Linked DNA regions of Homo sapiens. The protein of the gene in region 1 interacts with the protein of each later gene in a biochemical or structural test. Each region holds a gene or a part of one and is shown in the gene's direction. Other genes may lie near its edges.

Region 1 (3,815 bases):
GAGTGAAATGACAAAACAGGGTGCTTTGGATAGAAGGTAAAGAATGGAGGGAGAAGAGGCAGTGGCTGTGAAGAATATGAAGAGGTTAGTATTCTCCCCCAGTTTGGCAGAGGCTGGCCATCTGTGAACTGCCCATGCTTTCTAGAATGTCGGAGTTTTGGAGTGTGATGATGCGTCTGTATATCATATCTTTCTAGTCTTTCATTGTGCTTTCATTTGTTAGTCTTCTCTTGTTTTGCCATTTTTCTACTCCCTCACATGTGCTTTTGCCCTTAAAAATATTCTTCGTCTGTAATCTGAGCACTTTGGGAGGCCGAGAGACCAGCCTGACCAATATGGTGAAAATCCGTCTCTATTAAAAATACAAAAATGAGCCGGGCGTGGTGGCAGCGCCTGTAGTCCCACCTACTCGGTAGGCTGAGACAGGAGAATTGCTTGAACCCTGGAGGCAGAGGTTGTGGTGAGCAGAGATTGCACCACTGCACTCCAGCCTGTGTGACAGAGCGAGACTCTGTCTCCAAAAAAGAAAAAAAGAAAAAAAAATATAATTCTTTCTCTAGTTTTTCTTTTTCCAGATGGCTTCTGTTTAGTTTTTCTATGTTCTGTCAAGTTGATTTCTTATTCTGCAGCTGATTCCTACTTCTCAAAGTCTACTTGACAGCTCTTATTTTTATTTATTTGTTTTTTAGAATAGGGTCTTGCTGTGTTGCCCAGGCTGCCATCAAATTTTTGGGCGTAAATGATCCACCTACCTCTGTTTCCTGAGTACTTAGGACTACAGGCAGGCACCTTTGACAGCTGTTAGTTGTTTTTTCTGCCCTTTACAGCTATACTTCATACTTCTGAGTAACACACATATATACTTTTGTTATTTTTAATTTCCTTTCTCCCATTTTAGACATTTTCTTTTCTTTTTTTTTTTTTTGAGACGGAGACTCGCTCTATCGTCCAGGCTGGAGTGCAGTGGCGCGATCTCGGCTCACTGCAAACTCTGCCTCCCGGGTTCACACCATTCTCCTGCCCCAGCCTGTAGCTGGGACTACAGGCACCCGCCACCACACCCGGCTAATTTTTTAGTATTTTTAGTAGAGACGGGGTTTCACCGTGTTAGCCAGGATAGTCTCGATCTCCTGACCTCATGATCCGCCCGCCTCAGCCTCCCAAAGTGCCGGGGTTACAGGCGTGAGCCACCGCGCCGGGCCCCATTTTAGACATTCTGTACTGGTTATTATGCTCCTCCAAAACTGTCCTCAGACACTTTGGTTTGCCCCTCATTCTTTCAGTACTGTTATTGCAGTTTTTGTTTAAATGAATATTTAACATTTATATAAATATAAGGTAAATATTTTTGCATTTGAATTGCCCTTGTTGTGCGGTTTTGTTTTTCCTGGACTGAATAATTGCTTTATTTTTTGGTTTGCTTGTATGTTGTGTTACTACTTGCTTACTTAAACTCAGCAATTTACACCCTCAAATGTGGTCAAACTGGTCACATAATCCCATCAATTGCAGCTTAAAACATTGATTGATTGATTGATTGATTGATTGTCTGTCTACCTGGAATACCCTTACTAACTGACTTCTCCAACCAGGATTGGTTTTTCTTCCTCTTTGCTACACAGCTGTGCTCTTGGGACTTCCCTTTATCATCAGTTTGAGAATTCCTTTCATCTTTTTTCTGAGTTAGACCCTTTGTTTCTTGTATCTCATGTCCTCTTCATTTACTTTCTTTGTTTTGGTGTAGCATAGTCTCACTTGCTTTGAGGAAAAGTAGATGAGAGGTTTTTTTGTTTGTTTGTTTTTGTTTTGGGACAGAGTCTTGCTCTGTTGCCCAGGCTGGAGTGCAGTGGCATGGTCTCAGCTCACTGCAACTTCCGCCTCCCGGGTTCAAGCGATTCTCCTGCCTCAGCCTCCTGAGTAGTGGGATTACAGGTGTGTGCCACCATGCCCGGCTAATTTTTTCTATTTTTAGTAGAGATGGGATTTCACCATGTTGGTCAGGCTGGTCTTGAAACTAATGGTATGTCTTTAAAATGTCTTTACTTAATTTAGTTGATCATTTGGTTATCGAATTCTGAGTTTGAAATAATTTTTTTTTCGCAATTTTGAAAGCATTGCTCCATTTTCTAGAAGTTCTGTTGTTAGGAGTCCGATGAGATTCTTGTTCTTGGTAACTTAAAGGTTTTCTGGAAGTGTCCTTTCAATTGGGAAACTCATTTCTTTCAGTTCTGTAGCATTTCTTGTATTATTTCTTTGACCATTTCTTACCCTTTTTTTAATGACGTTTACCTGAAAGCTGGAGTTTCTCTAATTTTTCTCTTATTCTCCTCTTTTGTTTGTTCTGCCTTTTGAGAGATTTCCTTACCCTTATGTTCCAGGGGAAGAAGATTGGGGAACTCATGGTTCAGTATCTAGACTTTTCCTCATTGTCCTGTATAATCGCGGCCTTCACCCTTGTTGGGACTCCACAGATTTGGAGCTGATCAGATGGGTTTGTTGAGAACAGCTGATCAGATGGGTTTTTGGAGGATTTTAGGGGGAGGGAGATTCATTTGACTGTGCAAGATGGGCGACAGAGTGAGACTCCATCTGAATTAAAAAAAAAATTTAGAACTGCATAGTGAAAAAGTAGGCCACAAATATTAAGTTTTGGACAATTACAATTACATCTCTATCTTACTGTGCAAGATAGAGATGATGTGGCATCTCTTAGGGTCTTACTGTTCCTGTTTTCAGCCCTGCATCAGTTCTTGATATTTGGCAGCTTAAGTGAATTCAGGTATTTGCTTATAGTGACATCTGCTGTCATGTAAAGAAGTACTGCTTGCATCAGATATTGTCCTGTTTACATAACATGGGCTGTGCTCCTTCCTAGCTGTGTATCTTTAAACAAGGCATTTACCTGCTTGAGCTTCAGTTCCCTTGTAAAGTGAGCAGGTTAGAGGCAAAAGATCATATAGAAGAATAATTTGTAAAGTTGTTTAATTATCTTAAGATTGTCTACTTTAATAACATAGTTGGAAGCAAAGAAGGTAATGGAATTATTTTTCTATTATGTTTTGGCATTGTACCTTGAATCTATTTCTTCATTTTGAAAAGGGGGAACTGGCTGGGCTCAATGGCTGACGCCTGTAATCCCAGCACTTTGGGAGGTGGAGGAAGTCAGATCACAAGGTCAAGAGATCGAGACCATCTTGGCCAACATGGTGAAACCCCATCTCTACTAAAAATACAAAAATTAGCTGGGCATGGTGGCGTGCGCCTGTAGTCCCAGCTTGTACCCGGGAGGCAGAGGTTGCAGTGAGCTGAGATCGAGCCACTGCACTGCAGCCTGGCGACAGAGCAAGACTCCATCTCAAAAAAAAAAAGGAAGGGGGGAACAAGCCTTGTTCCTTTACGTGCTGTCCTGACTGCTGTGTATTATTTTTGTTAAGATTGCTGTAGTTCTTTTTTTTTTTGAGACGGAGGCTTGCTCTGTCGCCAGTGCTGGGATTGCAGGTGTTAGCCTGGCATTGAGCAACGTTTTGTAATTTAAGCATACAAGTCTCTCACCTCCTTGTTTACATTTATTCCCAGGCATTTTTTTCTTTTAGATGCGATTGTAAATGGAATTGCTTTCTTAATTTCCTTTTCTGATTGTTCGTTGCTGGTACAGTAGTCCCTTCTTATCCACAGTATTGCCTTACGTGGTTTTACTTAGCTGTGTCACCCGTGGTCCAAAAATATTGAATGGAAGATTATATAAATAAACATTTCATGAGTTTTAAATTGCAAACGGTTCTGAATAACATGGTAAAAATCTCACGGCCTCCTGC
Region 2 (3,815 bases), on another chromosome or scaffold:
CCCCATCGGTCATCCTGGGGTCTCCCCAAGCCTCTAGGTAGGGCTGTGAGAGTCCCCTAGAGCTGAAGCCCCGGAGGCTGACCTGTGGGTCTGGCTGCTATGGGAACCCGGTTGGTCCAAAGAAGCCTTTCTTCCGGGCACCTGGAATTCCAGTTTAGTGTGGGGCATCGGGGAAGTGGCGCTGGGGGGCTGGGTTGGGGGACCTCAGCCGGCAGCTCCGGAGAGGGCCTACCCTTGGGGTCGCTGGGTGAGGCCGGCACGATTCTTGGCTCCAAAAGGAAAGTTTCTGCTTCTTGTTCTGGCGCGAGAAGCCAAAGACTTATTTTGAGAGCGGAGAGAGAAATGTTATTGGTAACGTTTTCTTTGGAAAGTTCGAGAGGGGTCTTCTGGACACACTACCTAGTGCCCCCAAACCAGAGAAGTAGTTTTTCTTTGGTGCCTGGGCTCAGAAGTCGCCACTCACTCAGCCCATGGTTCGAAATCAGCATGGGAAGCGCCGGGGCAAGGCTTCGTCGGAGACTAGAGGCCTGCCTGTCGGGAGGAGCCCCTGGGGGATGGGGACCCCATTCTCCTGCTTGCTCTGGTTCCCACCTGGGACGCCTCCGTAGGAGCCCAGAAAGACGATCCACTACATGGTCCCGGGACAGAGCAGCGCGCCCAACTTTGAGGGAACTTTGTGCGCCTCTCTGAGGCCCTAGCTTTCCAAGGCACCGCCGTCCGTTCTTCTTTCCCTAGACCGAAACTGGGGAAGAGTGTGGGCGCTTCTTTGCCCCGATGAGTTCGCCTCCCCAAACGCCTACTTCGGCTGCACCAGAGCATCTGGGAAACTCTGAAAGGTGCCCAGGCCTCACACAGCAGCGTCTCCCTACTCAGCCTCTGTCTTTGGGTTTTTTCAAGAGAGTCTCTACCTCATGCCTCGGTCTTTCTTCGATGTCGGGTCCCCGAGGTAGGCACGGAGTCCCTCTGAAAGCAGTTGCCTATCTGTGCCCCTTTGGTGTAAAGTTAGAGTTTACTTTGTTGGGGGAAGGGGAGGTAGAAAAGATCACAGTTGGGAAAGTGCGCTTTTCGCCTTGTTCCTAAAACATGCCTCAAGACTGTCATCGCGATTGTTAGGAGAGCTATCAACGTCTAGGGGCTATAAAGGAATTTCTGAACCCTCGGCCCTTCCCAAACCCCCAGGTTCCTAAAACCCTAGTGGGGGTCTCTTGGGGCTGGGATTCAGGCTGGCACCGCTGGGAGGACCTCGCCTAGCATCCCTTTATTAATATTTCACGAAGGCAGGCTCCTGCCTTCTCTGGAGCCTCTTTTCTCGGAATGTTCCCAAACTCTGGCTAACTCACTCCCCTGTGAGCCATCCTAGGGCTCTGTGGCCCGGGAAGAGACGCGTCAACTCCGCGGGTCTGCGCGCAGTCCTTAGCCGCAAAGTGCTGCAAGTGACCCCCCTGACGGCCCTTTCCGACCGAAGAGCTCGGGAACCAAAGAGAAAAAAAATAACTTTATTTTCAAAAGAACAAGTCATCACTGCGGCGATACTGTGGCGGAGGACTTTGGCGATGGGGTGGGGGCTATTTCTCTTTCCTTTTTGGTAAACAAATCAGAGGAAACTTCTGCCCGGCCGTGGCTTTCCATCCCCCACCTGCCCCACCCCCTGCAAACGCCACTGATTAACTTAAAACAAACTCGGCTGCGTGTTTGTGCGCCGTTGGGTAGCAGGAGGTAGAGCCTAGGCGAGAGCCTGGTGCGCCCACGGGTTTCGCCGAAGAGTGCCCGGGGGAGTGCGGGCAGGGTCCCGGCTGCGCAGACCTGCGGGTGCCCGCCCACCCGCGCCCCGCGCTCCCATACTTGACCTGTGTGGATGTGGAGTCTCCGGGAAATACCGGATCAGGCACTTCCTGGGGTCTCCTGGTCACTGCCCTTCCTGTGCATAGTTTGTCATCTTTTTAGCTGCGAAGACGCCTTCGTGGGTCTGCGTCCGGAGCAAGGCGGTTACCCGATCCCGGCAGTGAGCCGCGCCGCGCGTCGTGGCGGCCTGATTTCTGTTTAACTTTAATAGGGCGATCTCGAGGTGTTTATATTTTGCTATGATGATCGGAAACATGTGAGGTTCATTACAGGGCTTCAATACTTTGAAACCAAAACCCTTCTGTGTGTCTTTTACTCTTCTGGTATTTTTCCCCGTACGGGCGTCCTCTATTTTCTTTTTCCTTCTTTTTATTTTCACAGATTTTCAAACGTAAGGAGATGAAAGTATCCAGAATAGAAAAGTACTGTCAATACGGAACTGAATGTTTCGATTATCTAACAGATCTGAAAGTTGGGAGCCTCAGGCTGTTTAGTTAAAGTGGGCTGCTGCTGAGAAGCGGGTTTCTGGGGCTTCAGTTTCTCTGTCGGACAGAGTTTGCAAATTGGTGCTGCTGTCCCTGTAAGCAAGGTGCACTTGCAGCAAACCACTTCAAGAGGGAGGGAATAAAGCCTGCGCTTGTTTCTCTACCTTAGGCGAAGGTGACATTTTGGAATTTAACTTCATAGGGATTTAAAAGAAATTCTAAACTGTCACCTTATGCAATTCATGTCTCTATTTGTTGCTTTGTGGAGTTATGAGACTTGTGTTTAAAAGCGGTCAGTTTAAAATGTTAACAAAAGAAGTTGGAATTGTTTGTGGCACATGGAATTATATGAGGTCCATGCTTATTGATGACAAAAGATGTTTTACTTGTAAAAATAGTTCAGTAAGACCTTGCTAAAAATTGTTTTTATTTTATATTTTACCATGTGATATTTGCCCAGCAATCACCAAAATGCTTTTTGTTGCAGGATTAACACCTACATGTAAATTAATTGAATATGTGTATACATTTCTCTTTTTGTTTCAGTGTCTCAATTTAAAATGGTGAATTACTCCTATGATGAAGATCTGGAAGAGCTTTGTCCCGTGTGTGGAGATAAAGTGTCTGGGTACCATTATGGGCTCCTCACCTGTGAAAGCTGCAAGGTTTGCTCACACATTGCTACCTGAAAAATATAATGTCCAACACCAAAATAAACCAGTGGATTACTTCTTTTAAGCTAAATTTAGGCTCCTTTTTTAAAGACTCAACTAAAAATGAGGGAGAAAGAGAGAGTCTTAGGGAGATGATTCTTAGAAGTGTGTGTCTGATTTAGTTCAAAAGGCAAAGAAATTTATGCTGTTTAGAAAACTTTGCCAGTCTCATGGTTCTAAAATACTTTATTGTAGTAAAGTGATATAGCTGTAGAAAGACTTCCATTTCTAACAGTCCTAAATATTGATTTTGCTTGACTTATATATATTTAAAGCATCGTTGTTCTTGAAAGGGAATATGACAAACTATTTCCCAAATACATTTTAACTTCAGAGTATTTCTGTGCTATAAGTCTAAACATTCTTTATCCACAGACATAAAAGCCTAAATTCCCAACTGTGTGATTTCATCTTGATTTATTCCAAAATAATTTTAAGGATTTTTTGAAATTTATATCATAAAGACCAAGAAATCAGATTTTAGTTTTTAATATAATAATTTTTATAAATATATGACCTATTTAAGTGCATGGATTTTAATATGTAAAATATGCTATATTGTTACCAAAAATATAAATTATACTTTAAGAATTTATCTCAGGACTTTTTAATACATTCCCAGTAAATTCAATATTCACTATTTTTCAAAGTTTTTTTTGTTTGTTTGTTTTTGTTTTTAAGTGGAAAACTCAGTACAATTACTTAAACCACCACCAGGAAAATCCCTCCATTCTCTATAACAAAGTAAGAATGTTTCTCTTTGTGGCAAGTGGGT

Evidence for each region.
Region 2: the proteins of RANBP2 (region 1) and NR5A2 form a complex in vitro, tested with the Homo sapiens proteins (one study listed by BioGRID).

What each region holds. Positions count from the first base shown.
Region 1 is NC_000002.12:108,722,373-108,726,187, forward strand, and holds part of RANBP2 (E3 SUMO-protein ligase RanBP2), read left to right. Parts: intron 1-3,815. UniProt on the Homo sapiens protein: E3 SUMO-protein ligase which facilitates SUMO1 and SUMO2 conjugation by UBE2I. Involved in transport factor (Ran-GTP, karyopherin)-mediated protein import via the F-G repeat-containing domain which acts as a docking site for substrates.
Region 2 is NC_000001.11:200,040,901-200,044,715, forward strand, and holds part of NR5A2 (nuclear receptor subfamily 5 group A member 2), read left to right. Parts: exon of another isoform or gene 1-774; coding exon of another isoform or gene 775-946; intron 947-1,690; exon of another isoform or gene 1,691-2,098; intron 2,099-2,873; coding exon 2,874-2,992; intron 2,993-3,815. UniProt on the Homo sapiens protein: Orphan nuclear receptor that binds DNA as a monomer to the 5'-TCAAGGCCA-3' sequence and controls expression of target genes: regulates key biological processes, such as early embryonic development, cholesterol and bile acid synthesis pathways, as well as liver and pancreas morphogenesis.